Regions from separate parts of the Homo sapiens genome. Here region 1 is linked to region 2. Evidence: fine-mapped expression QTL. A gene starts in region 2. The other region holds a variant in brackets. All regions are shown on one strand. Distances are from middle to middle. Region 1 has its middle 12 kb from the start of LINC01450. Region 2 holds the start of SUGCT (succinyl-CoA:glutarate-CoA transferase).

Evidence for each region.
Region 1: its variant is fine-mapped to the expression of SUGCT in whole blood (TOPMed, PIP above 0.99).

The regions. Positions count from the first base shown.
Region 1 is chr7:40,984,501-41,000,229 of GRCh38, reverse strand. It overlaps a transcript of SUGCT not described here. Among named protein-coding and RNA genes, the nearest start is that of LINC01450, 12 kb to the right of the region's middle. The variant T/G (reference allele first, on the strand shown) is at 8,629.
Region 2 is chr7:40,130,309-40,146,037 of GRCh38, reverse strand. SUGCT (succinyl-CoA:glutarate-CoA transferase) reads right to left here and starts at 11,033. Exons shown (of 14, transcript NM_001193313.2): 1 at 10,918-11,033. The coding sequence starts at 11,017. MPLKIP (M-phase specific PLK1 interacting protein) reads left to right here and starts at 11,416. Exons shown (of 2, transcript NM_138701.4): 1 at 11,416-11,809; 2 at 12,779-15,729. The coding sequence starts at 11,471. The coding sequence ends at 12,979. RefSeq lists silencers at 10,961-11,160, 11,621-11,690 and an enhancer at 11,341-11,410.

The DNA of each region.
Region 1 (15,729 bases), 850 kb before region 2:
GTATGTCCATGCGTGTGTGTGTATGTGTGTAAGTATAATGAGTAATGCATGCACACACACAAACATAATGATGCTTAATAAGAACTTGTTGAGTGCTTTGAATTTGAATTACAATTGCTCATGAAATCTGCCTTCTCCCAAATCTCAAAAACAAAACAAAACAAAATAAAACACTCCCATCTTGTTCTGGAAAGGAAAAGAGCTGGCAAAGTCAAGGCCTGTTCAATGGGACTGTTGGATGGGGCCAACTTACCCATGAAGCACTGTGCTTGGGGCCCATGGTACTTTTAGGGACCCATGAAAATGTTTTAAGTTTCCTTTAAAGTCAAAAGAAAAAATTGATATAGTAACAAATATATAATAATAAATTCAGCTTGAATTTTTATTTATCTTTATGCCAAAGCAGTTGTCAAATGTAATTGTTAAATTTTTTAATGGAGGAAGGATGAAGGAAGCAGATGTTCTGGAAAGGTAAAAGTCCCACCATGATCCTGCTACTGGAGGCCTTGCTCTCTCCAGGAAAGTTTCGGGTAGCGGACTTTAGAATTTCTGGCCCCACTGGAATCTCATTGATTGGGGAGTGGGCTGTTACCCAGAAGAAATGATATAAGGAAGCAAAAGTAGCAGCATTCTACTACATTTATCCTGTTTTTGTTTAACACTTGTATAGTGTTATAAGTACATGCGAGGCACTATTTTACTTGCTTTGCAAACACGAAGTCATATAATCTACAGTCTCCTAATGAATAGGAAGTACGTCTCTAACACCCTGGCTTACTCTCTGTTGGCCTCTTTCTCAAGGTGGATGTTATTTAAGGATCAACAGAAATTCAAGCATAGAAATTGTGAATTTGTCCATCGATGTACCAGGCATGAAAGAATTGAAAGACTGATTTTTTTTTAAGTTTTAGTCCCAAGGCTGATGTTTGTCAAGTCTTTTCATCTCCTCAGTGATGGTTGGTCTTGCTTCAGGAAGACAAGAAGAATACTTTAAAATGAGAAAAAAAAAAAGCTGTGCATAATGGAAGAGCCTGTCCTTCAGGCAGGGCCCTCAATCTACAGACGTCCTCTCACCTAAATTTATGAAGATCGATCTCCAGGCTTTCCTAAGTAAGACATAAAGTTCAAAGTGTGTCACTTCGGCAGCTCACAGTACAGCAGTCTCTGTTGTGCCACACTGCATTCCACAGAGACAGGTGTATAACATGTTATATTTGCATTGGGTATATATTTACACATGTATGTGTACCACTGCTTAAATTACCTGTTACAGAATCATAAATGTGATCCCTTTGCAGTGTTTTCTTTTTCTCTTTTCAACACATTTTCTGCATAGTGAAATCCCAAGTTGAAGAATCACTGGAAGCTATTCTCAAGAGAGATCACCTAAGCTTTTGTAAAGTCCACAGTCATTAGGGGCGCAGTGAAAAGGAACTTGCTTTGGCTGGGAAGACAGAGTCAGGGGTGTCACCACCAATGAGGAGAAGCTCATTGTAGAGCAACCTTTCCTAATTCTGGATGCTCAAAATATCCCTTGGGGGCTTTCTAGAAGACACCAATACTCTAGGCTTTACCTAGGCTGATTAAATCAGAACCTTTGAGATTGTACCTGGGCATCAGCTAAAAGCTCCCTAGTTGATGTAACAATAAGCCAGCACTCAGAAAAGATACTAATTTATGACTGCTGGGCACAAGAGCTACTAAATTTTCCCAAATAAGACAAACCTTTGTAGCTACAAAGTGCCATAGGACTACAACATTTTTCATGTCATCCTTGTTCCTCTGGCTTTATTCTGGAGCAGTTTTTTAATGTAGTAGTGATTATGTACTCAGTTCAACACACCTAGCTCCTTTTTTTTTTTCAGAGTCTTACTCTGTCGCCCAAGCTGGAGTGCAGTGGTGCAATCTCGGCTCACTGCAACCTCCACCTCCCAGGTTCAAGTGATCCTCCAGCCTCAGCCTCCTGAGTAGCTGGGACCACAGGCATGTGCCACCATGCCAGGCTAATTTATTTTTGTATTTTTAGTACAAACGGGGGTTTCATCATGTTGACCCGGTTGGTCTCAACCTCCTGGCCTCAGGTGTTCTGCCCACCTCAGTCTCTCAGAGTGCTGGGATTACAGGTGTGAGCCACTGCCCACACCTACTTTCAAAATCATTCCGGAATTAAGTCCTCATTGAAAATTCTTCTTAAAACTACAGAGAGGCCACTGAGAGATCCCAGGGATGGACTCCAGGACCACTGAGAGATTTCCGAGGAGTAGCTGGTGAGCATTGAGCAGGTTGCTTATGAATACACCAGGGCAAGCACCCTTAGAGGAAACAGTCTACACCATTGTCAAGACAGGAAATGAAGCAAGTCAAGAGATCAATACCAAGAAAACTGATTTTAGGGAGAAGTGAGGCTTATCACTCCCATTCAACACAGATTTCTTGAATACCTATTGTGTTCCAAGTATGGGGTCAGGAAGGGGCAATCCCACTGTCTAGGATCTGAGAGCTTAGGAAGGAGATGTCATCAAATAATTTCAAAATTACATGGGAAATTATGAGCAGAGTAAGAAGATATGTTTGAACCAGGGTGATGCGTTTGAGAAGGTTTCTAAGAGATGCAACCTTATCCACATCTTGGGAAGTGAATATTATCCAAGTGAAGCCTGGGAATGCCTGGGGAGTGGCCAAAGGAAGGGCAAAGTCATGATCCAGCAGGTGTGTGTGTGTGCAGGGTGGTGGTAAGTGAACCATGAGCAGTCTGGTGATCAAAGCTTAGAATGTTAGGCAGGAAAGAGCAAGGTCAGATTCTTATGGCTGACCTGTGGTGCTGGTTGCCATGTGGAGAATGGAGCTGACAGCGGGGCTGCTGTAGAGAACATGTTGAGGGCGGGCAGATGGTCCCAGCAAGGTGAGGGATGGCAGGACCTGCATCAGTGCAGTGGCAGTGGGTGTGCATATGAATGGGACAGGAAGTAAAATCAGTGGGACTTCGTGGCTAATGGATGTGTAGGATGAGGGAGACAGAGAGTAGATTCTGAATAAGAAACCATCAGATGCTCAGAGAATGTTTTCTTCAGGACCTGGAGTTTGAAATGGGTGGAGCAGGCAGTTTAAAACAAAAGGTCACAAACCACATGAGGGCTTGGGATGCCAGGTTTTCATGGGGTGCCAGCTGTGTGGCTTGGGGCAGGCTCAGCCTCAGGTTGTGGAGCCGCATCAGGCATCAGCAGAAAGTGAGCCAGAAAGATCATGCCTGTCTCCTTCGCTTCAGTTTGGGGTTTTACTCATCCCATTGACAGTTGGGATTAGTACTTTCCTAATTCAATTGTTTTTGTAAATCCCCATTCATCTGATGATTGATTACAGGTGGCTATAAATTGAGAAATGACAGAGAATAGTTTGGCTTTTCCTTGCTTCTCCCCTCAGTAAACCAGAGGCCTGGAAAATCTTGGGGTTGCCTTGGGAAACATAATGCACTTTAAATTGGGAGCTGAAGGAAGGTGGAACATTTAAATTAACCTCCAGTGGAAACCTCAACCTGCTTGTTATGGTCATTCTTGGCACAAAAGGCATCTCATTTTGGCTAACATCCAGAAACACAAAAATGGTAAAATTGCAGGACAGAAAGTTGGCATGGACGGTGTGGCAATTTCCCTGGTCCCCACCAATTCCCCTGCTTTGGAATTCTGTCTAGACTTGGCTTCAAGGAACATTCCTTCAGCCTTCAGTAGGCAGAGGTGTCCAGCTCTTGCAGTGTGTACATGATTTAAAAAGAACTAAGAACAGGCTCTCAACAAACCACTGCCTTCTAAAGGTCAAATCTCACTGCTCCAACTGTGACCGGGAAATGGAAATATATTCCAGATCGCTCAGCCCACAGGTGCAGAAGCTGAGGCTGCAAATTTCACGTGCAGACTGGCGGGGTCCCTTCTCTGAGCCTCCAGATGCACAGGGAATGTTTCATGTACAGGAAGACAGAGGCTACACAGTGACAGCTGGGCTTCAGAGAAAAAAAGCATGGACATGTAGTTAACTCTACCACAAATCCCCAAAATTCAAGCCACCAACATAGGAGGGAGAAACAGAGCAGCCAGGGAGATTTGGTCCATGCATTCATTCCAAAAATGTTGAGCACTGATTATATGTCAGATATTTTTTTCCAAAGATATTTCTCCATCTGTGACAAAATTGCTCACACTGGAGAAACATGTTTCCTGCCAGTTAGACGTCACTTTGCAATTCAGGGGGCTAGAACACCAGCATGCCATTTGCCCCTCATGTATGATACCACCAGAAAAGTGATTTTATGACTTTGCTTTTATCCAACAAAGTTAGTCCCTTTTCATAAATGACCTGGAGAGAAATATACCCTGAGAAATGAATTTCACAAATGAAGCATTCTGCCTGAAGGAGATTGGAGACTGTTCAGCTTGAGGTGCAACTGCCAGCCCTTTCTGTGCCTGTAGGTGGATTGCCAGGGAGCTATTGCCATGAAGGGCTGTAAGGTTTTAAGTTCTCCACATATAGAAATGCTAGCCATTTTACGTGATGATTATAGTGATGATGATGATGATACGAAAATAGACTGAGAAAAAAATATTGAAGTAATTAAGAAGAATGAGAAAAAAAAAGCTGAAGAACCTAAAACTATTAAGTGAGGGAAGTATTCAAGGACTAAATTGGACACAATCCAGGGCATTATTCATTCTGAAATATTTCTTGAGCACCTATCATTTTCGGGCCATGCTAAGTGCAGAGGATATAATAGTAAACAAAGCAATCAATGTCATGGAACTTTCGTTATGGTGATGAAAGAGAGTAAACTATAATAATAATAATAATAATAATAATAACAGCTATTATAGGATACCAAGTGCTGAGAAGGGGAGGAGATAACGGGGATAAAATGTGTGTATGTGTCTAGGGAGTGGGTGCTAATTTGCTTAATGAGTGTTGGAGAAAGAGACACCAAGAAGATAACATTTAGACAGAATCCACTGGCTAAATGAAAGAGTCATTCTCTGGGCAAACGGTTGACTCTTTGACTTCCTTGTCATCTCTATTCCCAGGCCCTAGGGATTAACTGGTGTTCCCTTCCTTTTCAGCATCCTTCATTGCATTATCTGTCAGAATTGTATAGTATGTGAAGTTTAAGGGAACGTGATTTTTAGACTGCATGTTAGAACATTTGTGTCGCTATAAAGGAATACCTAAGACTGGGTAGTTTATAAAGACAAGAGGTTTAATTGGCTCACAGTTCCGCAGGCTGTACAGAAAGCATGGTGCCAGCATCTGCTTCTGGTGAGGGCCTCAAGGAGCTTACTATCATGGTGGAAGAAACCTGTATATTACATGTGAGAGCAACAGCAAAAGGGAGAGGGCAGGAAGTGCGTGCTCTTTTAAACAACCAGATCTGGCGTGAACTCAGAGGAAGCACTCACTTGTCACCAAAGGGATGGTGGTAAGCCATTCATAAGAGATCACTCCCATAATCACCTCCCAGTCACCTCCTACCAGGCCCCACCTCCAACCCTGGGAATCGCACTTCTCAACATGAGATTTGGAAGGAACAAATATCCAAATTTTAGCAGACCACATGGACTAACCCACAAGGAGAATTTGTCCTTCTGTACCTTCTCTGGCCAGGCCCTGCATTTCCTGGTTTGGATGCCAGGTTGGTTTCTGAGCTTTTCCTGTTTCTTTAAAATGTCAAGAAACTGATGCACAGCATGTGCTCCAATCTCTTTACACTTGGGGCATGGGACTTTTTTATTCAGGTCAAGGAGTTAGAAAACAGCAATATTAGGATGCTGACAGGCTTCCAAAATGGGGGGGTGACTCTTTGAGAGAAGTGGGATGTAAATATCTTCTTTGTTCTTTTCCATCCATACATTAGATTTTGTGGGTATTCTCAATCTAGTTTTAATGATATGGAAGAAACTGAACTCCATCCTTTTGCTCGGATGTGCTTTATTAGATTAGGGAGATCTCTTTGCCTTCAAACTGAATGGCCACTGCACACCTTCAAGGGGCCATGGGGTCATGCTCTGGTTGTCATGTCCTGATCTGCATTGCATCCTTGGGGACACAGGTGACCACACCATCTGAGACATCATAATGCACAGAGGGCATGATAGATTTCCTGAGTAGTTGTCACTTTTCTCTCTGCATTGCCCCTTCCTCAGATATACTTAAGGCCAACCTTATTGGGTTCTAGTGTCTCAGATATAATTTCACAGTCAGGCAATTGGGTAACTAAGCTGCCTTACAACTCTTGTCCCTACAATCCTTTACAGTTGAATAGTGTTTTATTTGCTTGTTTTTCAAAGTTCTTGCATATATTTTTTCACTTGTTCCTGATAATAGGATTACTAGAAAACTTGTGCTACTTGATAATCACCACTTTACAGGTTAAAAAGTTGAGTCTCAGGAAGGTTGGATAACTTGTCCAAGTAACTGAACAGGTCATTTTCCAGCTCTGAGCGGCATCCAGTTCTTCCAACTTCAAATCTATTGCTCTTCAATTACATCTCAAAGATGCACAACCCTGGGATTGGATTCTGGCCATGGGTAAAATGCTTGCCAATGGGAAACAAGTCACCTTCTTACCTACCTCCTATCAAGGAGTAATTTGCTCTCCCTAGACTCATGAAGGAAACTGCAGATGAAGCTGCTTCCTGTGCGGTGAGATGTGAACACCCAACAATGAAGGGAACCAGTGACACAGAAAGCCTTTCATTTTCCATCTTCCCTCTGAGAAGCTCTCCACCCAGGCTTTGGCCAGGATTCTACCAACACTTCCTGACTTTTGAGCTCAGGTCCATTTGTAAGCCTCTCGCATTCAGCTCTGCAGGGTAAGCAGACAGCATCAGGGCATCTCCTTTACCTCCCATAATTGAGCTCTCTTCCTCCATAGAGTGAGCAAACACAGTGCACAGAACACTGAACACATCTAGGATTGCCTTGGAAAAGCTTGCCATTTAGTGGGTAGTAGAAAGACTTCTCAGGAATAAAAATAAGGGTGATGAGGTCTGCCCTCATTTGTGATCTAGAGCATTTTAACCCAAGAGGTCCACAAACCAGAAGATCCATATGACCAGGAGGCAGGGGCTAGTTAGAAACAGAAACTCAGACCTCATGCAAGAACTCCTGAATCAGAATCTGCATTTTAGTAAGATCTCCAGGTGATTTATGCACATATCCAAGGTTGAGAAACCTATACCAGGGAACCAATTTCCCTTGAGCCTGCATACAAGGAGGTCTGTGCCCTAATTCCTCCTTCATTCTCTTACCTGTCCCCTCCCCACATAACTGTGTCTGTGTCCACAGTCCTCTCTCACAATGCTCAAGCCTCACAACACTCTTGCTCTTGAATATATGCCTTAAATTCTCACAACAGCTCATAGATATGTTTTCTTGTACCCACATTACAGGTACTGAAACTGAGGTCCAAAGAGAAAATAACTCACCTAGGGTAGAATTACTGCTAGGTGTGGCTGTGCCTGGAATTTGAAGCTAGGCTTGGCTCACTCCAAAGCCAAATCTCTTCCTATTATAACCAGAACTACTTCATACATACCTCCTATGGCCCATTTTTCCCAGAAAAACCCTTTTCAGAATATGGGGAAGCAGTTTTCACAGATCCTATAGACCCACAAGAGGGATACTTTTGTCAGAGGTATTTGAACCAGAGCAACTCCATCTTGAATAGGGACTCGGTAAAATAAGGCCGAGACCTACAATGGGCTGTGTTTTCAACAGGTTAAGGCATTCTTAGTCACAAAATGGGACAAGAAGTCAGCACAAAATACAGGTCGTAAAGACCTTGCTGATAAAACAGGTGTGGTAAAGAAGCCAAAACCCACCAAAATCAAGATGGCCATGAAAGTGACCTCTGGTTGTCCTGACTGCTCATTATATGCTAATTATAACACATTAACATGCTAAAAGACACTCCCGCCAGTGTCATGACAGTTTATAAATGCCATGGCAATATCTGGAAGTTAACCTATATGGTCTAAAAAGCGGAGGAACCCTCGGTTCTGGAAAATGCCCACCCCTTTTCCGGAAAACCCATGAATAAGCCATCCCTTGTTTAGCATATAATCAAGAAATAACCATAACATAGCCAACCAGTAGCCCTCGGGGCTGCTCTGCCTATGGAGTAGCCATTCTTTATTCCTTTACTTGCTTAATAAACTTGCTTTCACTTTACTCTGTGGACTGATCCTGAATTCTTTCTTGCAGCAAGAAAGAATTCCCTCTCTTGGGGTCTGGATTGGGACCTCTTTCTGGAAACACATTCTCTGGCAGTTCAGATGTTCCCCTCACCACTGTTCTTGCCACAAAATAGCTGAGAAAACTCAGCTTCCATCTTCTAACACCATGCAGAAGAGGGAAAGGCTCTTCTGATACGTGCTCGTCCTGGAGGTATTATCATTTATTGGCCCAAGTTGTTTCATGCCCATTCTTTCCCAATCACAGGGGCTGAAGGTGAAAATACTGAAACACTTAAACCAATATGGGGGCATTCCTGGAGCTGCAGGTGGGTCTTCTCACCAGACACATGGTCAAACGGGAGGAAGTAAATTCCCTCCGGCCTGCCTCACCCTAAACAAATCAAGATACAATAGA[T/G]GAAGTGAGAACGTAGAGGCATACTTCACTTTATTGTGCTTCATTTTATTGCATTTCACAGATACTGCATTTTTTACAAATTGAAGGCTTGTGGCAACTCTGTATCCAACAAGTCTATCGGTGTCATTTTTCCAACAGCCTGCACTCACTTCGTGTCTCTGTGTCACATTTTGGTAATTCTCAAAATATTTCCAATTTTTCAAATTATTATTATATCTTTTATGGTGATCTGTGATCAGTGATCTTTGATGTTACTATTGCAATTGTTTTGAGGTGCAAGGAACAGTGAAGATGGCAAATCTGATTAATAAATGTTGGAATTGCTCTGACTCCTCCACCAACCAGCATTCTCCATCTTTCTCCATCTCCTCAGGCCTCCCTATTCCTTTGAGACACCACAATACTGAAATTAGGCTAATTAATAACCCTGCAATGGCATCTAAGTGTTCAAGTGAAAGGAAGAGTTGCACATCTCTTTCTTTAAATCAAACGCTGGAAATGATTAAGCTTAGCGAGGAAGACACGTCAAAAGCTGAAATAGGCCAAAAGCTAGGCCTCTTGTGCCAAGTAGTTAGTCAAGTTGTGAATGCAAAAGGAAAGGAATGAGAAAGCAAAATGACTTATTGCTGATATGGAGAAAGTATGAGTGGCCTGGACAGAAGATCAAGCCAGCCACAACATTCCCTTAATTTAAGCCTAATCCAAAGCAAGGCCCTAACTCTCTTCACTTCTGTGAAAGCTGAGAAATGAGGAAGCTGTAGAAGAAAAATTTGAAGCTAGCACAGGTTGGATAATGAAGTTTGAGAAAAGAAGCTCTCTCAACATAAAAGTGAAAGGTGAAGGAGCAAGGGCTGATGGAGTAGCCACAACAAGTTATCTAGAAGATCTAGCTAAGAAAATTGATGAAGGTAGCTACACTAAACAAATTTGCTATGTGGATTAAACATCCTTCTGTTGGAAGAAGATGCCATCTAGGACTTTTATAGCTAGGGAGAAGTTAATGCCTAGCTTTAAAGCTTCAAATGACAAGTTGACTCTTGTTACTAGCTAATGCAGCTGGTGACTTTAAGTTGAAGCCAATGCTCATTTACCATTCGGAAAATACTAGAGTCCTTAAAACTTATGCTAAAGATACTCTGCCTGTACTCTATAAATGCAACAACAAAGCCTGGATGACAGCACATTTGTTTACAGCATAGTTTACTGAATATTTTAAGACCGCTGTTGAAACTGATTACTCAGGAAAAAAGAAAAAGATTCCTTTTATTAGGTTATTGCAGTTCTGCAAATACTTTTGCACCAAACTAATAAAATGTTACTGCTCATAACAATGCACCTGCTCAACCAAGAGCTCTGATGGAGATGTGTGAGGAGATTAATGTCGTTTTTGTGCCTGCTAACACAATGTGCATTCTACAGGTCATGAATCAAGAAGCCATTTCAACTTCCAAGTCTTGTTATTTAAGAAGATGATTTTGTAAGACTGCAGCTGCCATAGGGCTTGGTTCCACTGATGGATTTGGGCAAAGTACATTAAAAACCTTCTGGAAAGTATTCACCATTCTTGATGCCATTAAGAACATTTGTAATTCATGGGATAAAGTCAAAATATCAACATTAACAGGAGTTAGGAAGAAGTTGATTCCAACCCTCATGAATGACTTTGAGGGGTTCAAGACTTCAGCAGAGAAAGTAACCACGGATGTGGTAGAAATAGCAAGATAACTAGAATTGGAAATATAGCCTGAAGAAGTGACTAAATTTCTGCAATCTCATAATAAAACTTGAGCGAATGAGGAGTTGCTTCTTTGTTTTTTGTTTTGTTTTGTTTTTAAGACAGTCTTACTCTGTCACCCAGGCTGGAGTGCAGTGGCATAATCCTGGCTCATTGCAACCTCTGCCTCCCAGGTTCCAGCGATTCTTCTGCCTCAGCCTCCGGAGTAGCTGGGATTACAGGCCCACACCACCAGGGCCAGCTGATTTTTTTTTTTTTTTTAGTAGAGATGGGGGTTTCACCATATTGGCCAGGCTGGTCTCGAACTCCTGACCTCAGGTGATCAGCTCACATTGGCCTCCCAAAGTTCTGGGATTACAGGTGTGAGCCACCATGCCAGCCAAGGAGTTGTTTCTTATGGATGAGCAAAGAAAATGGTTTCTTGAGATGGAATCTACTGCTGGTCAAGATGCTGTGAACATTGTTGAAATGACAAAGACAAATTTAGAAAATTACATAAATTGAAATGACAAAAATGATTTAGAATAGTACATAAACTAAGTTGATAAAGCAGTGGTAGAATTTGGGAGGACTGACTCCAATTTTGAAAGCAGTCCTACTGTGAGTAAAATGCTATGAAACAGTATCACATGTTACAGAGAAATCTTTTGTGACAGGAAAAGTCAATAGATGCAGCAAAATTCATTGTCATCATATTTAGATCCTGCAAACAGGTTACAATGTGCTGAAGCCTCAAATGATCTTGAGTATTTTTTTTAGCAACAAAGTATGTTCAATTAGGGTCTGTACATTGTTTTTTATACATAATGCTATTGTACAATTAATATACTACAGTATAGTGTAAATATCATTTTTATTTGCACTGAAAAAAAAAATGCATGTGACTTGCTTTATTGTGATATTTGCTGTATTGTTGTGTCTGGAATCAAACCTGCCTATATACTGAGGAGAAAACAAACAAACAAAAAAAAACTACAAAAATTAAGAATGTGCTAGAAATATATTTATTTATTGGCAAAGCCATATATTAACTGGAAAAAATCAAGTCACAAAACAGGAATTTCAGCATTTTCTTATGTCTTTTTTTCCCAAGAATCTGTCTATCTATAATATCAAGTACATAAGGGTGCTAAAATAATAAGTTTATGGGAGTTCTTTAGTTTATCTTTAACGCTTTTCTCAATCTTTTGATTCTTTTCTCTACGATAATAAAAAATTACATGTAGAGCACATATTTAAAGCATATTTTTTTAAACACACACTTTTTTTCTATAGCAGTATTATTATCCCCAGTATCAGTATCCACATTTTAGGACCTATACAGCTGTAGAGCACTCTATAAAGTCAGTTTTTTTGAACACCTCCTTGTGGCATGATCTCAGTAGTTTATGCCAATCTATAAAAGATTCCTTCAAAGAGAAGTACACCTACCTTAAAAAAAAATGGACCCCAGAACCTGGTAGCATTAGAAGGAGAATCTGCTCCTGGAGAGGAGGGATAAGTCAAGGAGCCCAACTTCCTTTCCCTGGAGCTGCCTGTACCCTAAGGTCTTATCTCCACCCACCAATTCCTGTGGGTCTTCTTGGCCTTTAACACTTCTAAACACATTTAAATTAAACATCTTCATCTAGTTGCCTCTTTGCTTAGCTGAAAACATGTAGCAAAATTTTAATATTAAATTAAAATTAAAATTAAAGACTTTACCAATTACTGAAGAATTACAAAAGACGAATAAACCCTAACTACTTGACTCTGGAGAGCCTATTACATATGCCATGCTCTTTGGGGGAGAATTGATGGGATCTCATACATGTGAAACCTTCTAGAAATGAGAAGGCTTCATTCCACTCCCTGGATCCACTTCTCCATTCTCCAAGCCTCCCTTTCCCTTTGAGGGAGAGAGACACACACAGAGAGAAAGAGAACAAGTTTCACAGTGTATCGATCAACCACTACGTTTTAAGAATGATTTCACATAGACCCAGATCATCAACAAGGTATTTATTTTCATTGGCCTCTCTGTGCAGATGGATAATAAATAGAATGACAAATAATGGTTCCTGCTCTAAGAAGCTTACAGTTTCTGGTGGGAATATCAACAAATGCCTGGAATTCTGTTGAAACATCAAGAAAGGAATATGCAAATACTCTCTGTTTACTCCATTTATCATTTGGCTCATGGTTGGATGGTTTCTGCCTCCTTCATCATTGCTTCCTCAAATTATAACTAACCTTAAAACCCAGATGTTTTTCACAAAGCTGTCTCTGATCCCTTCCTCCAAAGTCATAGAATTCCTTTTCTTCTGAACCTCCAGCATATATAGTATTTTTCATGGGAGACATTTTATAATTTAACACAATGATTCTCCACCAGAAGAAAGGGTGGGAGTATATGTAACACAAACCTTATTAAGTTCTAAAAAATTACATAAATTACCAAGAGTCACACAGATAGTGGAAGGTACCACATTGTAATCCATATCTTCATTCCAAAAACCCTGCTTTAAACTACTGGTGTCTCCTGATCATTCTCAAACCACTTTCTACATCCTCCTCTCCTCCACCCCACCAGCCTGGATTGCAGTCCCCTCGTCATGTCCACATACCTTTGTCCATCTCTGATGAGTCCCTGGGACTGATGGCAGGGAGTGGCATCGCCCTCAGACCCTGAGGCAAAACAATATTGAGGACCACGTTTTTACCCTGTTGTGGTCCTTGTCCGTCCTACTGGGTTATGTACTCCTCTAGGGAAGAAACTGTAGCTTCTTCATCCAGCTCTACCTCCCCCAGACACCATCATTATGGGAACTAGAGCAATGTCTTGCCTTATCATTTTTGTATGAGTTTTTCAATAGATTTTTTTGAATAAAGGAAAAACATAGAATATACAGATTATGTAAGTGCAAATAAGGTGTAAGTGATAACATTTGTGGATAAACAGGATGATGTGGAGAGACTTTCTGGAGGAGGTGAGGTTTTTTTATTTCTTTTGGCTGGAGGATCCTGACTTAGCAGAGATGAAGGTGAAAGGTAGTTCAGTTAGGGAGAATTGCATAATGGCCTGATTTAAAACATTCCTCGTTGTTGATGAGAAATGACAGTGCTGATAGATTTCCTATGACCATAGAACAGATGAGCAAGACAGTTTAATTCTGGGAATTTCTGCTTTCCATCTCAGCGATTACTCCTTGGGCCATTATCTCTTCAGTGGATGAAGGTACTTGCTAAAAATAGGCTACTAATGTTTTCCTTAGAATTACAGCACACGTCAGAAGAGAGTAATGACCCAATCCCGCACTGTTTTCTTTTCATTTCAGTTGGCCTCAAACAAATAAACCCGATAAATATTATCGGAGTCACATATGCTCATTAAGGGTTATAGTCAGTGGCTCTGTTTGTTTTACTGTGTAATAGATGATGAAACCATGGTGATGAGTGGAGTAAGCTGGGATGGTTTTCGTATTTCCCCATCTCAACACTGAAGACTTGCTCATTGTTATTTCACTGGCTTGTACAAGAAATAGAACAGCTCACTAAAACTCTTATTCATTTTGACATGTCTTAAAGAAGTCCACATTCACATATTCTGATTTAGCTCAATGACACATGATACATGTTTGAAAGGGGTTCTTAAATAAATCATTGAACATTAAATAAGCATTTTCACTGGCAAGAGGAACAGTGTGAAAACTTTCAAATAAGAAATAGTATTCTTAATAACTTATTAACTCACCATAACTGAGGATTCTGTTGGTAATCATTTTATGGGCTAGAGGACAAAATTCGGCTCATGTTGTGTAAAATTTATGCCTCAAAAAGTCAAAGTATATAGTACTGGCCTACTGTGTTTTTAAAAACATTTCAGCCTAGTAAAAGAAAATAAACACTGTAATTATTCCTAATGAAATTTCCACACATTTTCATATCTAAGCCTCATGGCTTTCATTTTTTGTTTAAAGAGACTGAAAAACCATGGGTCTTCCCACTCTTGTATGAATTTTTACCAAAACCCTAATTTTACTATCCAGAAGGGCTGCTTTTCCCTATTTGCCCTAATCCTTCTGTCCACAGAGTGATCTTTCTAAGATACAGATCTGATTGTATCACTTTCTAGTGAAAACCTTCAACAGTTCCCTGTTAACATAATCCAAATACTTTTGGATGATATACAGCACTATTCATACTATGGTGGTCTATTTTTGGCCCTTTTAAAATTCCCTTTCTGTGTAATTCACAATTGTCCTGAACTTCATATGTCCCAAAACTTGCAGGCTTTTACCCTTCAGCCTTCAAACACACTTCTCCTTATCTTCCAGGTAAAACTGCTGTCATCAACACTGCACTCAAATTTAACTTCTTCTGAGATTTTTTTCCCCCACATTTACTCCCCAACACCTAGTGGTTCCCTTCTTCCTGATCATTTAGTGCATTTTCCAGGCACTCAAGTCGTGTCATTTCCATCACCAGCATTTTCATTATTTGTTTTGATGTCTATCTCCTGCACTGCGCTGAGGACTTGTCTTTTTTGTAATGAAAGCTCAACGCTGATACAATCCCAAGCCCCAACCAGGTGCTCCATAAATGTCCATTTACAATGCCATTGAATAAATGAATCACAAACTGCTCCTCACTAGAAAGGAACAAGCCCAGAACTCATGCTTTTTAAAGCCCTGATACAATTTGCAATTTCAACTTGCAATTGTATCAAGTTCCAGACTGAAGCCAGGGTTAGGGTTCTGCAAAAGCATCCAAGTAGGTTTTAGCTTCTAGTTAAAACATACACCCAAGAGAACATCAAGGGTTATTACTTGAATAGACAGCCTGTCCACGTAAAAATGGTGAACACATACACTTTGTTCTTTGAAAATGTTCCCTTGAGTCTCTGCTGAGATGTATTCATTTAGAAGAACAAAGGTTGATTAGCATATCACCAAACAGACAGCAGAAATTTTATGTTTGGCAGCCACTTCTGGAGGGATACAGGCCTGCATTTCGTTTCCTAACAGATTTCAGGGACCTAACTTAGTGGGAGAAGTACAATCTTACAGGAGAGGAAGGCTGCACGATACCAAAAAACAAACAAACAAACAAAAAACAGCATCACACTTGATAGTGATAATGTTTCCACCGACATTGTCCAAATCTGTTCTGTAATTACACACTCAATGCCATTGTAAAATGGTAGCCGTCGGAATATAGTTATAGCAACCTAGAACATCACAGATGGAAGGAGTCTTAAAGGAACTGTTGTTAATATCTTTCATTACTCAGATGTGGATGTAATAGCTAAGAAACAAGTCCTATCTGCCCGACTTATTAGAATATAGGAAAAAATTGAGGGGAAGATACTCCATAAACTGGCAGCA
Region 2 (15,729 bases):
TGATTTAACATTAACCACTGAAAATTCTCTTAACCCAGCAGGTTTCCTAACAGGATCTAAATCTTAATTACCGTACAAAGGTCTGACCAGACCTTGGAGGAACTCCCTTCAGGACAGGAGGATAGATGATTCCTCCCAGGTGATTGAGGGAAAAAGACACAATGGGTATTCAGTAAGGGATAAGGAAACTCTAACAGAAGCGAGTTAGGAAAATTGCCTAATAATTGGGCTGCTCAAACGTGCCAGCTGTTTGTACTCAGCCAAGCCTTGAAGTACTTACAGAATCAGGAAGGAGCCATCTATATCAATTCTAAGTTAATATGGACTGAACAGGGTCTTATTAATACCAAAGAATAATTGAAATCCCAAATTCACAAGGTTTTCAACAAAAGTAAAGTTTGCTAAAAGTTAACAGTGTAACATGTATTATCCTAACTTCTAATCTTGTGGCCTTAGACTAGTCCACAGACATGAAGGAAGTTCACTTTGGAAAAGAACGGTTATTATCTTTGAGAAAAAAAAAAAAAAGTGGGGAGGAGAATTTATGTAAAAACGAATGTTATATAGTAAATTCTTGTCCTAAAATAAATTAACTGGTTGTTTAAAGAAAGGGATGTTGCAACAAGTGAGAAAGCTGAGGCATGTCAAAGAATTGTCTGTGAAAGTCGTGAAAAAAAAAGTTATAAAAGGGAATTTATGCAAGAAATGTTGTATAATGTACAAGTAATTAGGCCTCTTGATTGTAAAACTATTGAAGAAACAGTTTATGTGCAAGGTGTGTAAGGAAAGTAAATATACTTTTGGTAAAAGGATTATAATGAGGCATAAGAATGTAGATTTTTACCTACATTAAAAGGTTAAAAAAATTTTTTGTTTTAAAGGTTTAAGCAAGTTTTGAAACATTAATTTTAAAGAAAATTCTGTTTGTAAACATATTGGCTAAAGTTAAAGGGGTATCATCCAGCTTTTCTGTAAACTGGACATTAAAATAAAAGCACAACAGGTTTTTCTTAAAGCACTAACCTGCTCTTTAACAAAAATTATACAAGGTTAAAAAGAGTCTATAAAAATCTTACCTTATGGTCAGACATTAAAAATTGGATAAATGTGTCTACAAGTTTTATTAAAATTAAGTTTATCACTAATAGCACACTAATATAAAGGTGAAATTTAGCTTTTCTGGTATAAAAATCATACAGGAAGCATTGTCAAATATAAAATGGTATTTGGCTTTCTTTGGTCTAAAAACTAATAAAAATAGGTGCTAAAGGAAATTTCTCAGTAAGAAGACACCAAGGACTATAAAGTCCACTGCTGATGTCCCCACATTTAAAACAAAAGATCAATTTCTTAGAAATTGTATACTTGGTTTATCTTCCACTTTCCTTTCCCTCAAAACTAAAAGTCTTTTAGCACAGGTACCACCCCTAGAATTTCCGGTAAACCAGCAACAGCCTGAAGATCATGGTCTCATCAAAGGGTGGAAAGAAGGAAAACTCCAGCCACCCTGGGAAGGACCCTACCTTGTGCTGCTAACCACCAAGACTGCTGTTCTTACAGTGGGAAAGGGAATAGACTCATCACACCTGAGTCAAGAAAGCGCCGCCCCCTCCAGAGTCATGGGCCATAGTCCCAGGGGAAAACCCTACCAAACTAAAGCAAAGAAAAATTTCACTCTCTTTCATCTATTCTATTACTCTTTCTTCTTTCCTCGCTCTATTGCTGACCATCTAGTTATTAACATAACCAAGTCAATTTCTCTTCAAACTATTGCATTTGATGCTTGCCTTGTTATACCCTGTGGGGACTTGCCAAGTCAAAGACAGCTCTCTACTTCAGAAAAGTACCTCTCTCCCTCCTGACTCTCCTGAGACTAGACATTAGTGAATTGAGACCACTTAATCCAGGGAGATTTTGGTAAAGACCCCAGTGTCAACCAGGAGTCTTGCCCCCCAGTGTAGAGCTTTTATGCCGTAGTTTGTCCAACATTCTGTGGACCACTAAAGAGCAAGGATGGACTGCCCCAACCAGTTTTTGTAATTTCCTAAAACCATACATTCATTTTACTAGAGGGACAGCCAACCCCCAACTGGGGGTCAGCTAAACCAGTGCATTCCAATACAGGTTATTATCTCGAACCCTCAAACTTCTTCCCCTTTTCTAAGCCAGTTCCCTTCTTTAAGCCAGTTTTATGGTATGGGGGCTGAGGTTTCAGGGACAGACCCTATTGGATTCTTTGAAATGTGTTTATTTGATCCCCCAGTGCCTGCACCTTCCTCTAAGCCTTCTTCCAAAACCTCTCACAACTGAACAATTGCCACTCCTCCATCTAACGACAAGACCAAGATAGCTATCATACAAGTTAAAGACTTAAAACAAACTTCGGCAATTAAGACAAGATACCAAGATGCAAATGCCTGGTTGGAATGGATCAAATATTCCGTCTGCACGTTAAACAAAAGCAATTGTTATGCTTGTGCGCACCGCAGGCCAGAGGCCCAGACTGTCCCCTTTCCACTAGGGTGGTCATCCAGTCAACCAGGCATGGGCTGCATGGTAGCTCTTTTCCAGGATTCTACAGCCTAGAGTAACAAGTTGTGCCACACTCTCTCTCTGCTATATCCCAAAGTCCAGCATGCTGCGGGTCAGCCCCCAAGGGCCATCCAGCCTCCATTTTCCAAAATCAATTTTACCTCATGTCTCCAACGACCAAGGGAAAAATTTGGCATTCCTTGGAGACTTAACAGGATGCAGTGAAGTGTGGCACTTCCAAGAGCTGACCTATCAGTCTGCCCTTATTCATCCCTAAGCGGATGTATGGTGGGATTATGGAGGACCTTTACTGGACACTCTGCCAAATAATTAGAGCAGTATTTATGCTCTAGTCCAATCGGCTATCCCTTTTACTCTGGCCTTTCATCAAGCAGAGGAAGGAAAAACCAGACGTCATAAAGCAAGGGAAGCCTCTTATGGGTCTTTCGACTCTCACATCTATTTAAATGCAATTGGAGTCCCACAGGGAATACCAGATCAATTTAAACCCCAAAATCAAATAGCTACAGAATTTGAGTCAATATTTTGGTGGGTGACAATTAATAAAAATGTAGATTGGATAAACTACATCTATTACAACCAACAGCAATTTATTAACTATACTAGAGATGCTGTTAAAGGAATAGCTGAGTAATTAGGGGCTACAAGCCACATGGCTTGGGAAAATAGGATAGCCTTAGACATGATATTAGCAGAAAGAGGAGGAGTTTGTATCATGATTAAAACACAAATGTTGTACCTTCATCCCAAACAACACTGTCCCTGATGGAAGTATAACAAAGGCATTGCAAGGTCTGAGTGCTGTGTCCAATGAGTTAGCCAACAACTCAGGGGTAAATGACTCCTTTACAGGATGGCTAGAAAAGTGGTTCAGTAAGTGGAAAAGAATAATAGCCTCAGTTCTTACTTCCCTCGCAGCCATAATGGGTGTACTTACTCTTGTCAGGTGCTGTGTCACACCATGCATCCATGGGTTGGTGCAGAGGCTCATAAAAACAGCACTTACTAAAACCTCCCTTAACTATTCTCTGCCTTATGTAAAGAAGCTTCTTCTTTTGGAAAATCTGTAGAACAACTAAGCCAAGACATGTTAAAGAAGTTTGAAGAAAAAGAGCCGTAAGGAAATGCAAGAGGACAGAATGTTAGATATGAGTTCTAAATTTCTCTTCAAAGAATCAGTTTGTCAGTAGGTTCAATTCTTTGCTTTCTAGTTTTAAACTTAACTTCCTGGTAAAGCAACCTTTTTCAATTATCTGCTCTACCCTGACTCATTCCAATTACCTGCTCCACCCTGACTCATTCCGATTACCTGCTTCACCTTGACTCATTCTGATTACCTGCTCCACCATGACTAATTCCAGTTACCTATTCCACCCTAAGTCATTCCGATTACCTGCTCATTCTCCACCCTGACTCATTCAGATTTCCTGCTCTGCCATAACCATTTTTCCTGCCAAACCACTCACCCCGTCACTCTCTTTAAATTAGCCAATTGGAATTAGTTTAGCCTGTGTGGTCTAAACCTAGCCAATAGGGGAATGACACAGCAGCGGGGCCACGTGCATCAGGGATAAGAACCCCTTCCCCTCCCTTGTCCAGGTGTGTGCTCACCATTGTTCCATCTGTAAGGGCGCATTCTTCTATAGAAGTACATTGCCTTGCTGAGAATTAAAAAGAAAATTTTATATTCCAGTGCTATTTCTTTTGTGGCACCAAACCTTTATTTATAACATGGGCTACTGGAGTCAGACCCTGTCTCAAAAAAAAAAAAAAAGAATTCCCTCTCCCTCAATCTTCATATATTACCTGTAAATGTGATAAGAAGCACACTTTTTTTTTTTTTTTTTGAGATGGAGTCTTGCACTGTCTGTCGCCCAGGCTAGAGTGCAATGGCACAATCTCAGCTCACTGCAGCCTCCCACTCCTGGGTTCAAGCAATTCTCCTGCCTCAGCCTCCCAAGTAGCTGGGATTACAGGTGCCCACCACCACGCCTGACTATTTTTTTGTATTTTTACTAGAGACGGGGTTTCACTATGTTGGCCAGGCTGGTCTCGAACTCCTAACCTTGTGATCCATCTGCCTCAGCCTCCCAAAGTGCTGGGAGTACAACCATGAGCCACCGCGCCTGGCCCAAGAAGCACACTCTCATGCATAATCTGTCAAAAATTTATAAATCAGATGGGCACAGTGGCTCATGCCTGTAATCCCAGCACTTTGGGAGGCCTTTGCAGTGAGCCTACATTGCACCATTGTACTCCAGCATGGGTAGTAGAGCAAGACTGTCTCAAAAAAAAAAAAGGAAAAGAAATCACTAGGATTTCTGTTCACCAATAATGTTCTACCCGAGGACGAAACCAAGAAGGCAGTCCCATTTATGATAGCTACAAAAAAATAAAACACCTAGGAATATATTTAACCAAGAAGGTGAAAGAAATCTACAAGGAAAACTACAAAACACTGATGAAAGAAACTATAGATGAAACAAAAAAATGGAAAAACACCCCATGCACGTAGGCTGAAAGAATTAATGTGGTTAAAATGACCATTGTGCCCAAAGCAATCTGCAGGTTCAATGCAATTTCTATCAACATCATTTTTTCACAGAATTAGAAAAAACAATTCTAAAGTTCATATGGAACTAAAAATGAGCCCGAATAGCCAAAAATATCCCAAGTAAAAAGAACAAAGCTGGTGTTATCACATTTTCTGACTTCAAAATATACTACAAGGCTATAGTAGCCAAAACAGCATAATACTCATAGTGTCTATAAAAACAGACACATAGGGCCAGGTGCGGTGCCTCATGCCTGTAATCCCAGCACTTTGGGAGGCCAAGACAGGCGGATCATGAGGTCAGGAGTTCAAGACCAGCTTTACCAACATGGTGAAACTCCGTCTCTACTAAAAATACAAAAATTAGCCAGGTGTGGTGGCGTGCGCCTGTAATCCTAGCTACTCAGGAGTCTGAGGCAGGACAATCGCTTGAACCCGGGGGGCGGAGGTTGCAATGAACTGAGATTGCACAACTGCACTCCAGCCTGGGCAACAGAGCAAGACTCTACCTCAATAAATAAATAAATAGACACATAGATCCATGGAACAGCATACATAACCCAGAAATAAACCCACATGCTTAAAGCCAACTGATTTTTGACAAAGTCGACAACATTTACTGGGGAAAGGATACCCTTTTCAGTAAAAGGTGCTGGGAAAATTGGATTGCCATATGCAGAAGAATGAAACTGGATCCCTGTATCTCACCATATAAAAAAATCAATTTGGCCAGACACGGTGGCTCACACCTATAATCCCAGCACTTTGGGAGGCCTAGGCGGGCGGATCAACTGAGGTCGAGAGTTTGAGGCCAGCCTGACCAACATGGAGAAACCCTGTCTCTACTAAACACACAAAAAATTCGCGGGGCATGGTGGCGCATGCCTGTAATCCCAGCTACTTGGGAGGATAAGGTAGGAGAATCGCTTGAACCCAGGAGGCGGAGGCTGCAGTGAGCCGAGATCGCGCCATTGCACTCCAGCCTGGACAACAAAAGCGAAACTCCATCTTAAAAAAAAAAGAAAGAAAAAAATAAATTCAAGATGGATTAAAGACTTGAATGTAAGGATGAAACTCTAAAAATACTGAAGAAAACCTAGGGGAAACTCTTCTAGACATTGATCTAGGCAAAGAATTCATGACTGAGACCTCAAAAGCACGGGCAACAAAAACAAAAATAGGCAAATGGAACTTCATTAAACTAAAAAGCTTCTGCATAGCAAAAGAAATGATCAACAGAGTGAACGGATAACCTGAGGAATGGAAGAAAATATCTGCAAACTACATATCCAACAGGGGACTAATATCCAGAATTTGTAAGCAACTCAAACAACTCAACAACAAAAAACAAATAATCCCATTAACAAATGGGCTAAGGACATGAGTAGGCATTTTTCAAAAGACAAACAAGCATATCAAAAATGTTCACCATCAGCCGGGCACAGTGGCTCACGCCTGTAATCCCAGCACTTTGGAAGGCTGAGGTGAGTGGATCAGCTGAGGTCCGGAGTTTGAGACAAGCCTGGCCAACATGGTGAAACCCCCGTCTCTGCTAAAAATACAAAAATTAGCCAGGCGTGGTGGCACACACCTGTAGTCCCAGCTACTGTGGAGGCTGATGCAGAACAATCCTTGAACCCAGGAGGTGGAGGTTGCAGTGAGCTGAGATCTTGCCATCGAACTCCAGCCTGGGTGACAGAACAAGACTTTGTCACAAAATTAAATAAATTAATTAATATTATGAATCCTGGATTTATTTATTTATTTATTTATTTATTTATTTATTTATTTATTTATTTATTTTTGAGCCAGAGTTTTGCTGTTGTCGCCCAGGCTGGAGTACAATGGGCAATCTCGGCTCACTCCTGACCTCAGGTGATCCACCCACTTCAGCCTCCCAAAGTGGTAGGATTACAGGCATAAGCCACCACGCCCAGCCTGATTCCTAAACTTAATCCAATAACAGATTTCTTCTCAAACATTGGCAGTATGCTGTAATCATTTTAAATTCATAACCAGAAAATGAGTTGAACAAAAAATTCAAGACTCTAGGGAAACAAAAATAGTTTGTATATTGCTAGAATTGTCTATTAAGAGTCATGTTTTCATGCCTTTTAATCTTCCCTGAAAATTTCTGTGTACTGCCATGAGTAAAATTTTTAAAAAATGTTCAACATCACCAATCATCAGAGAAATACAAATTAAAAACCACAATGAGATATCATCTTACACACAACAGAATGGCTATTAAAAAGACAAAAAAAATCACAGGATGTTGGTGAGGAAGCTGAGAAAAGGGAACTCTTCTTATACACTGTTGGTGGGAATGTAAATCAGTGCACCTTCTATGGAAAACAGTATGGAGATTTCTCACAGAACTAAAAATAGAACTACCGGAAGATGCAGCAATCCCACTACTGTGCATCTACCCAAAGGAAAAGAAATCATTACATCAAAAAGACACCTGCACTCATATGTTTATCACGGCACTATTCATAAAAGCAAAGATATGAAATCAACCTAAGTGCCCATCAATGGAGCACTAAATAAACAAAATATGGCATATATACAAAATGGAATACTATTCAGCCATAAAAAAGAATGAAATTATGTCTTTTGCAGCAACATGGATAGAACTGGGGGCCATTATCTTAAGTGAAATCACTCAGGCACAGAAAAACAAATATTGCCTGTTCTCCCTTATAAGTTGGTGGTAAATAATGCGTACATATGGAAGCAGAGTGTGGAGTGATGGGCAATGGAGACTTGGAGGGTTGGGGATGTAGAGGGAAGGGGATGGACTACAGGAGGTTGCTTGCTGGGTACAATGTGTCTTGTGCCAGTGATGGATGCACTGAAGGCCCTGACTTCACCCCAATACAATATATCAATGTAGCAAAACTGCACTTGTACCCCCATGAATATATGCCAAAACAAAATCATAACTGGCTGGGGCACAGGGGGCTCATGCCTGTAATCCCAGCACTTTGAGAGGCCCAGGTGGCTGGATTCTGTGAGCTGAGGAGTTCAAGACCAGTGTGGGCAACATGGCAAAACCCCATGTCTTCAAAAAATACAAAAATTAGCCAGGCATGGTGGCACACACTTCTGGTTTCAGCTACTTGGGAGGCTGAGGTGGAAGGATTGCTTGAGCCCAGAGAGGCAGAGGTTGCAGTGAACTGGGATTGCGCCACTGCACTCCAGCCTGGATGAAAGAGCAAGACATGTCTCAATACTTAAATAAATAAAAAATATATAGAGAGAGTATACTGCTATACGACAGAAAAACACAACTCAAACTTTTTTATTGGTCACTTTTATCTTGCTACAAAATGTACTACTAGAAGCTTAAAAAGAGCATGGCTTTTGAATTTTAATAAATTTTAGTGAACTTTAGTTAGATTGAAGTTATACAGATAAATGGGTTGATGGAATAAAGATCTATATACTCATTAGGCGTCCATCAGTTAAACTGTTTACTATTAAATTAATTTGTTGGTTGGGCATGGTGGCTCACCACACCATTTAATTGCAGAGTTTTGGGAGGCCAAGGCAGGAGAGAGGAATGCTTGAGGTGGGGAGTTCTGGGAAACACAGCAAGACCCTGTCTCTACAAAAAATAAAGAAATAAAAAAATTAGCCAGGCATGGTAGCATGAGCCTGTACTCCCAGCTACTTGGGAGACTGACGTGGGAAGATCACTTGAGCCCAGGAGGTCGAGGATGCAGTGATCTGTGATCTCACCACCGCACTCCAGCCTCGGTGACAGAGTGAGACCACCCCATGTCCATAATAATAATAATAAAGTTAATTTTGGTCCCCACCACTCTCACTTTTCTGCCCCCTCCCCTGAGTAGACTGGCTGATGATCTAAAAGGTGAAAATTACCTATGTGATGTATGTGAACCTTTTTTTTTTCCAGTGGGGTGGGGGGGCATGATAGGGTCTCGCTCTGTTACCCAGGCTGGAGTGCAGTGGCACAATAGCGGATCACTGCAGCTTCAACCTCCTAGGACTCAAGCCATCCCACCTCAGCCTCCCAAGCAACTGGGACTACAGGCGCACGCCACCAAGCCCGGCTAATTTTTTTTGTATTTTTGGTAGAAATGGGGCTTCACGATGTTGCCCAGGCTGGTCTTCAACTCCTGGGCTCAAGCAATCGTCCCACCTAGGTCATTTTATTCAATAAATATTCAAATGAGCAATTCCCAAGCATTAAGTTAAACACTAAAGACAATGTCCAGAAAGGTGAATTTTTGGCCAGGACAGAACTACTGTATTTAATAAAGTGGATAGGCTGGAGTCCTCCGACCTTAATTGTATCACTAAGCCTTAATGGCAACGTGCTACCTTGATTAAGTCTATCACTTGTATCTACAGAAGAAACGAAATGTAGTGAATTGAATTTCCACAGAATAAACAAACAAAAAAACTGTCTGTGTGTGTCTCCATTCATCAAGGAGGATAGAAGCTGAGAAGATACCACACTCGTCAGCTTGGGATGTCACAGAACATGTCAAAGAGACAGCGAGGAGTAGCAGCTACAAGAGGGTGAATGGAAATCACAGGTCCAGGCTACCCGTTAGGCTATGATTTAATGAGTCCTAAAGCTCTTTTAAGATTCTGTATCCTACGCCAGGCGCGGTGGCTCACGCATGAAATCCCAGCACTTCGGGAGGCAGAGGCAGGCGGATCACTTGAGCCCAGGAATTTGAGACCAGCCTGGCCAACATGGTGAAACCCGTCTTTACTAAAAATACAAAAAAATTAGCCGGGCATGTGGCACATGCCTGTAATCTCGGCTACTCTAGAAAGCTGAGGCAAGAGAATCGCTTGAACCCGCGAGGCAGAGGTTGTGGTGAACCAAGATCGCGCCACTGCACTCCAGCCTGGGCGACAGAGCGAGACTGTCTCAAAAAAAAAAAAAAAAATCCTGCATCCTGCAACTAATTTCAAGATTCATAGTGGGCCGCGCGCATAATCATAGAGATTACGTCTGTAATCTCAACACTTTGGGAGGCCGAGGCGGGAGGATAACTTGAGGTCAGGAATTCGAGACCAGCCTGGCCAATATGGCGAAACCCCGTCTCTACTAAAAATACAAAAATTAGTTGGGCGTGGTGGCGCATGCCTATAATCCCAGCTACTCGGAAGGCTGAAGCAGGAAAATCTCCTGAACACGGGAGGAGGAGGTTGCAGTGAGCCGAGATCGCGCCACTGCAGTCCAGCCTGGGCGAGACAGCGAGACTCCGTCTCAAAAAAAAGAGAAAAAAAGAAAAAAGGAAAAAAAAGATTCATAGTGGATTACCATTCCCAAATTCAGAGGGAGTAAAGAAAGTTCTATAACACTGTAGTAAAGCTAAATTTCATCCTCTAAATAAAATTCTGCAACAGGTAACTGTACAAGGGCATCTTTTATTGTACATGAAGTGTCAAGTTATTCAAAGCAGCGGGCTAAAGTCCTTTCTGAAATGTGGCTTGGTGTGCATTTTCGAAGTTACTTAAACTTGGCGGACGAAAGGACAGGAGTAAAGAGGCCCCAAACGCGAGCCGCGGGACGCGCAGGAGCGGGACCCCACGGCGCACGGAGCCCTCGGTCACAACAACGCACGGGACAGAGGCGACCCTGGGCGGCCAGAGCGGGGCAGGCCGGCCGCAGGCCCACGGAACGGGGTTGCAGGGAGGCGAGCAAAGCCACCGCTAAGGGGTCAGCAGAGACTTCAGACCCTAATTGCTCTCCTCAGGGCGCCCGAGGAGGCAAGCTGGGGCAGGGATCCCTTTAGCCACCCAGACCGAATCTCGGAGGGTACCTGACTGCGGGCGGCCAGTCCACAGCCCCCTCCCGCCGCCCCGGCCGGAGAAGAGGCAGGTTCTGCGCAGAGCTGCCACCCTCGCCAGCGTCGCCAGCATCGCGTGCGTCTCAGATGGCATCGGTCCCGGTGCAAGCGGCGAACTCCGTGCGGCGCCACCCGCCGCCACTGGGGGGCGCCCACGGACGCCGCAGACCCCGCCCCCGCCGGGCGGGGCTGAGCACTAGTCGCCTGCTGGGCCAGCTTCTAGTCTGTCGGTCAGACCAAGGGCACTCAGACTGGAAAGGTTGTTGCTGGGCTTGGGTGTCCGTCCTTTCCTGTCTCCTTTTCTTCCTCTTTTCACTTAAATCCACTGAGTCTCTCGCCAAGTCAGTGATTTAGGTAATCCCGCCGCCCCTGGCGGAACCTTTGTGACGCCGGAACTGATGTGCCGTAGGGTGGCTGCGGTCGGAGGACTGTTTTGGTAAAGGACTAGCAGTTCTCTGCGGAGGGCCGGTTGATACAGTTCCGGTGGGAGAACGCGGCTGCGAGGTTTTCGGCTTTGGCTCCTGATATGCAGCGACAGAATTTTCGGCCCCCAACTCCTCCTTACCCTGGTCCGGGTGGAGGAGGTTGGGGTAGCGGAAGCAGCTTCCGGGGAACCCCGGGCGGGGGCGGACCACGGCCGCCCTCCCCTCGAGACGGGTACGGGAGTCCGCACCACACGCCGCCGTACGGGCCCCGGTCTAGGCCGTACGGGAGCAGTCACTCTCCGCGACACGGCGGCAGCTTCCCGGGGGGCCGGTTCGGGTCTCCGTCCCCTGGCGGCTACCCTGGCTCCTACTCCAGGTCCCCCGCGGGGTCCCAGCAGCAATTCGGCTACTCCCCAGGGCAGCAGCAGACCCACCCCCAGGTAATAATAATAGCCAGCGTTTGCCGAGCTCTTACTTTATGGCAGGCACGGTACTAATATTCCCTTTACGTGGATTATTTTGTCTAATCCTCTCTGAGGTACTATTGTTAGCCCAATTTTGCAGATGAGCGAACTGAGGCTTAGAGAAGTTGAGTGACTTCCGGAAGATTATCCGAAAGAGTGGCAGAGCCGTACGTTCTGTTTTCGAGCCCTCGTGCTTTTAACCAATACACTGCCACCCGTACACAGATTTTCCTAATTCTCCATTTCCTCCTGTTTGCCAAAGGCCTTGCCAGTTTGTTTCAAGAAATAGTTCTTTTTCTTTTTTTTTTTTTTTTTTTTATCTTTCTTTCGAGCTACACTGGCTTCTGCTCCAACTTCCCTGAAAAGAAAATCGGTGGTAGTGGAAGTTTTCCATTCCTTTAGTGAGAGTAAATACAAAAGACAGAGAGAGTATCTCTAGCATGTCTGGGATTTCTGTGGTTTACAACTTGCAACTACGTGGTTTTCCAACTTGCTGTATTCTACACCAACCCCCTACCCCTTTTGAGCCTGGAGCTAAGGAGTAAAGAAAATGTTCATGAGCTAGAAAGGTTCTAGAAACTTTAAAACTATAGTATTGTTTTCTCCTGAAAAAAGTGAAAATTTCGAGGGAAAATTGAATATAATTACTTGATTTCATCACTGCTTGTATTTAATTACTGCAAAGTTACTACATTAGACACAAAAGTATTTGAGATGACAGTGGTCATGGAATTATAAATAAATGAGAATAACGAATTGCTTTAAGTACTTTTTTTAAAAAATAGGAACACTTGATTAAAGGAAGCATGGACTTTGTAATTGAACATTATTTAGGTTCAAGTCACAACTTTTAAGCAGCAATGTGATTCCCGCTAACCTTTAGCTAAAGGAAGAAGTACCAATTATCTTTACTAAGTGTTTTTTTAACTGATTTTTTTTCTAAAGGGTTCTCCAAGGACATCTACACCATTTGGATCAGGGCGTGTTAGAGAAAAAAGAATGTCTAATGAGTTGGAAAATTATTTCAAGCCTTCAATGCTTGAAGATCCTTGGGCTGGCCTAGAACCAGTATCTGTAGTGGATATAAGCCAACAATACAGCAATACTCAAACATTCACAGGCAAAAAAGGAAGATACTTTTGTTAACATTTCTGAAATTCAACTGGAAGCTTCATGTGTCAGGAACATCTTGGACAAAACTTTAAGTTGTGTTGATATAAATTTACCCAAAGATGATGACTTTGATTGGATAATTAGTAAGGTCTTTTTGTTATTTTTCATCGTATCAGGTATTGTTGATATTAGAGAAAAAAGTAGGATAACTTGCAACATTTAGCTCTGGAAGTACCTACCACATTTTAGAGATTTACCGTTTCCATATATTTAACATTCCTGGTTACATAATGGACATTTGTCTTTTAATGTTTTTTCAATGTTTTAAAATAAAACATTTTGTCTTCTAGCTATTGTGGTTTTGTGGTATGATAAAGAAGTAGACTTACTACAGTAATGCTTTGTAGTCACTTAGAGTTCATAGGTAAATGTTTTGCAAATTATTTTTGAAAATGAAATAGGTAAACCATCCTTTGAGCTGTAGACAGCTCTGTATTTGTTCGTAAATAATGAGGATGAGAATAACAGAGTTCTGTTCATACTCATTTTATCTAATGCTTCTGTTAAAATGCATTAAAACTTGAAGCCCCAGAAACCCATTTAAGCATAACTTTATACTCATTTAACTGGAAAAGGCAAGAATAGACCATGCATTGCTAAATCAAAGTGTTCTATCTGAATTTCTCTATACCTCTTAGCATTATGGAGTTAGTTTCTCTTGAGGCCAAAGAAGATAGCTACCAGCAGCCTCAAATCACTTCCATTGCAAAAAGAACATCTCTCATCTCCATCAATCCAAGAGAAGACAAATTTGCCATACTTAGATCATGTTTCTGTATTATTGAACCAATTAACTGTGGCCAAGGCCACAGTGAGACCTAATTAACTTGAATCATGGACACATCACCATAATGAGACAGGATTCTGTGACCTTGAACACCACTGGGCCTACCTGGAGTAGAGAAGTGGTTTTCCAAATTAAGGGATGCTATGGATATATACCTATAGTTCTGGAGAGAAAAATATGGAAGAATTGTTACCCCAACTATTTTTTAAAAATCAAGTGGTTTTTTGTTTGTTTTTTGAGATGGAGTCTGTTGCCCAAGCTGGAGTGCAGTGGTGCAATCTTGGCTCACTGCAACCTTCGGCTCCTGAGTAGCTGGGACTACAGGCACATGTCACCATGCCTGGCTAATTTTTGTATTTTTAGTAGAGACCATGTTTTGTTTTTTTTGTTTGTTTTGTTTTGTTTTTGAAATAGGGTCTCACTCTGTTGCCCACGCTGGAGTGCAGTGGCGCAATCTTGGCTCACTGCAACGTCCGCCTCCCAGGTTCATACGAGTCTCCCGCCTCGACCTCCTGAGTAGCTGGGAATACAGGCACGCGCCTGGCTCATTTTTGTATTTTGAATAGAGATGGGGTTTCACCGTGTTGGCCAGGCTGGTCTCGATTGAACTCCTGGTCTCAAGTGATCCCCTACCTTGGCTTCCCAAAGTGCTGGGATTTCAGGCATGAGCCACCGTGCCCAGCCCAGAACATGTATTTTTAGTATTTTTAGTATTTTTAGTTTCACCATGTTGACCAGGCTGGTCTCGAACTCATGATCTCAAATGATCCACCCATCTCAGCCTCCCACAGTGCTGAGTTTACAGGCGTGAGCCACCATGCCCGGCCAAAATCAGGTGTTTTAACATGTAACACAGACTCTAGGCATTTTGAAGTTACAAAATACGAAGATAGAGCTAGTAAAACTTTTGTTTCAACATTCCCAGAAAGAAACGTGTAAAAACAAAATGGTCACACCTCCTATTTGAACCATACCCACAGAAATTTGTTCATTAGGTATTTCACAGAGACTAGAAAATAAGAATGGAAGGCTTTTAGATTAATAAAAGCTCCATGAAAGCCAGGATTTTGGAAATGCTGTTTCTACAAGTTACTAGCTGGATGAGTTCACTTCTCTATGCCTCAATTTTCTCATGTGTAAGATGAGAAAATTAATAGTACCTGTGTCATAGAGGTGTTGTGTTGGAGGATTAAATGAATTTATGTATGAAACTCTTAAGCCAGAGCCTGGCACATAGTAAGCACTCAATAAGTGGTAGCTGTTACTTTCTCATTTACCCCCATTTCCTTAGTTTTTAGAATAGTGTCTGCAAGATAGTAGGTACTTAAGTGATAAATGGATGTAGAAATTCTGATTGTAACTACTATATTGTTCTACCTACACCCTGTATATAAAAGGGATAACTTAGTAATTTTTCCCCAGTATTTTAAAGAAAAAGTCCTTATTCCCAACATTATGTCTTTCCAGATATGTTGAGGTCATGATGTATAATGGAAATTAAAGCAAAGGGAATACTTTTTTAAATACTTTATTGAACTTTATAGGTAAGAAATGTTGTCTTTAGGAAATGACATTTGGAGATAATTTACTGAAGCATCTCTTAGATCATTGGGTTATTAGTAAAGACGAAAACAGAAGTTAGGATTTTGTGCCAGTGTATTTATATCATATTTGGAAGACATTCAAACTGTAACTCTTCTAATGGTCTACGTACATTTTATTTCACTGTAAGTGTAACATAAAACAAAGGTAAAATTTCTTGCTAACGCTTACCAACATCTACTTCTAGAGACCTGGCCTGAGTTTTTTAAGAAAAATTTTTGTCCTCAGGAAAGATGCATACACTGTAAGTAGTGTATTCAGTTATCAAAATTCTTGTGGCATTGGCCATTTGGTTTGTTACCGTTACTCTATTTTTATTTATCTGAGTAAAAGG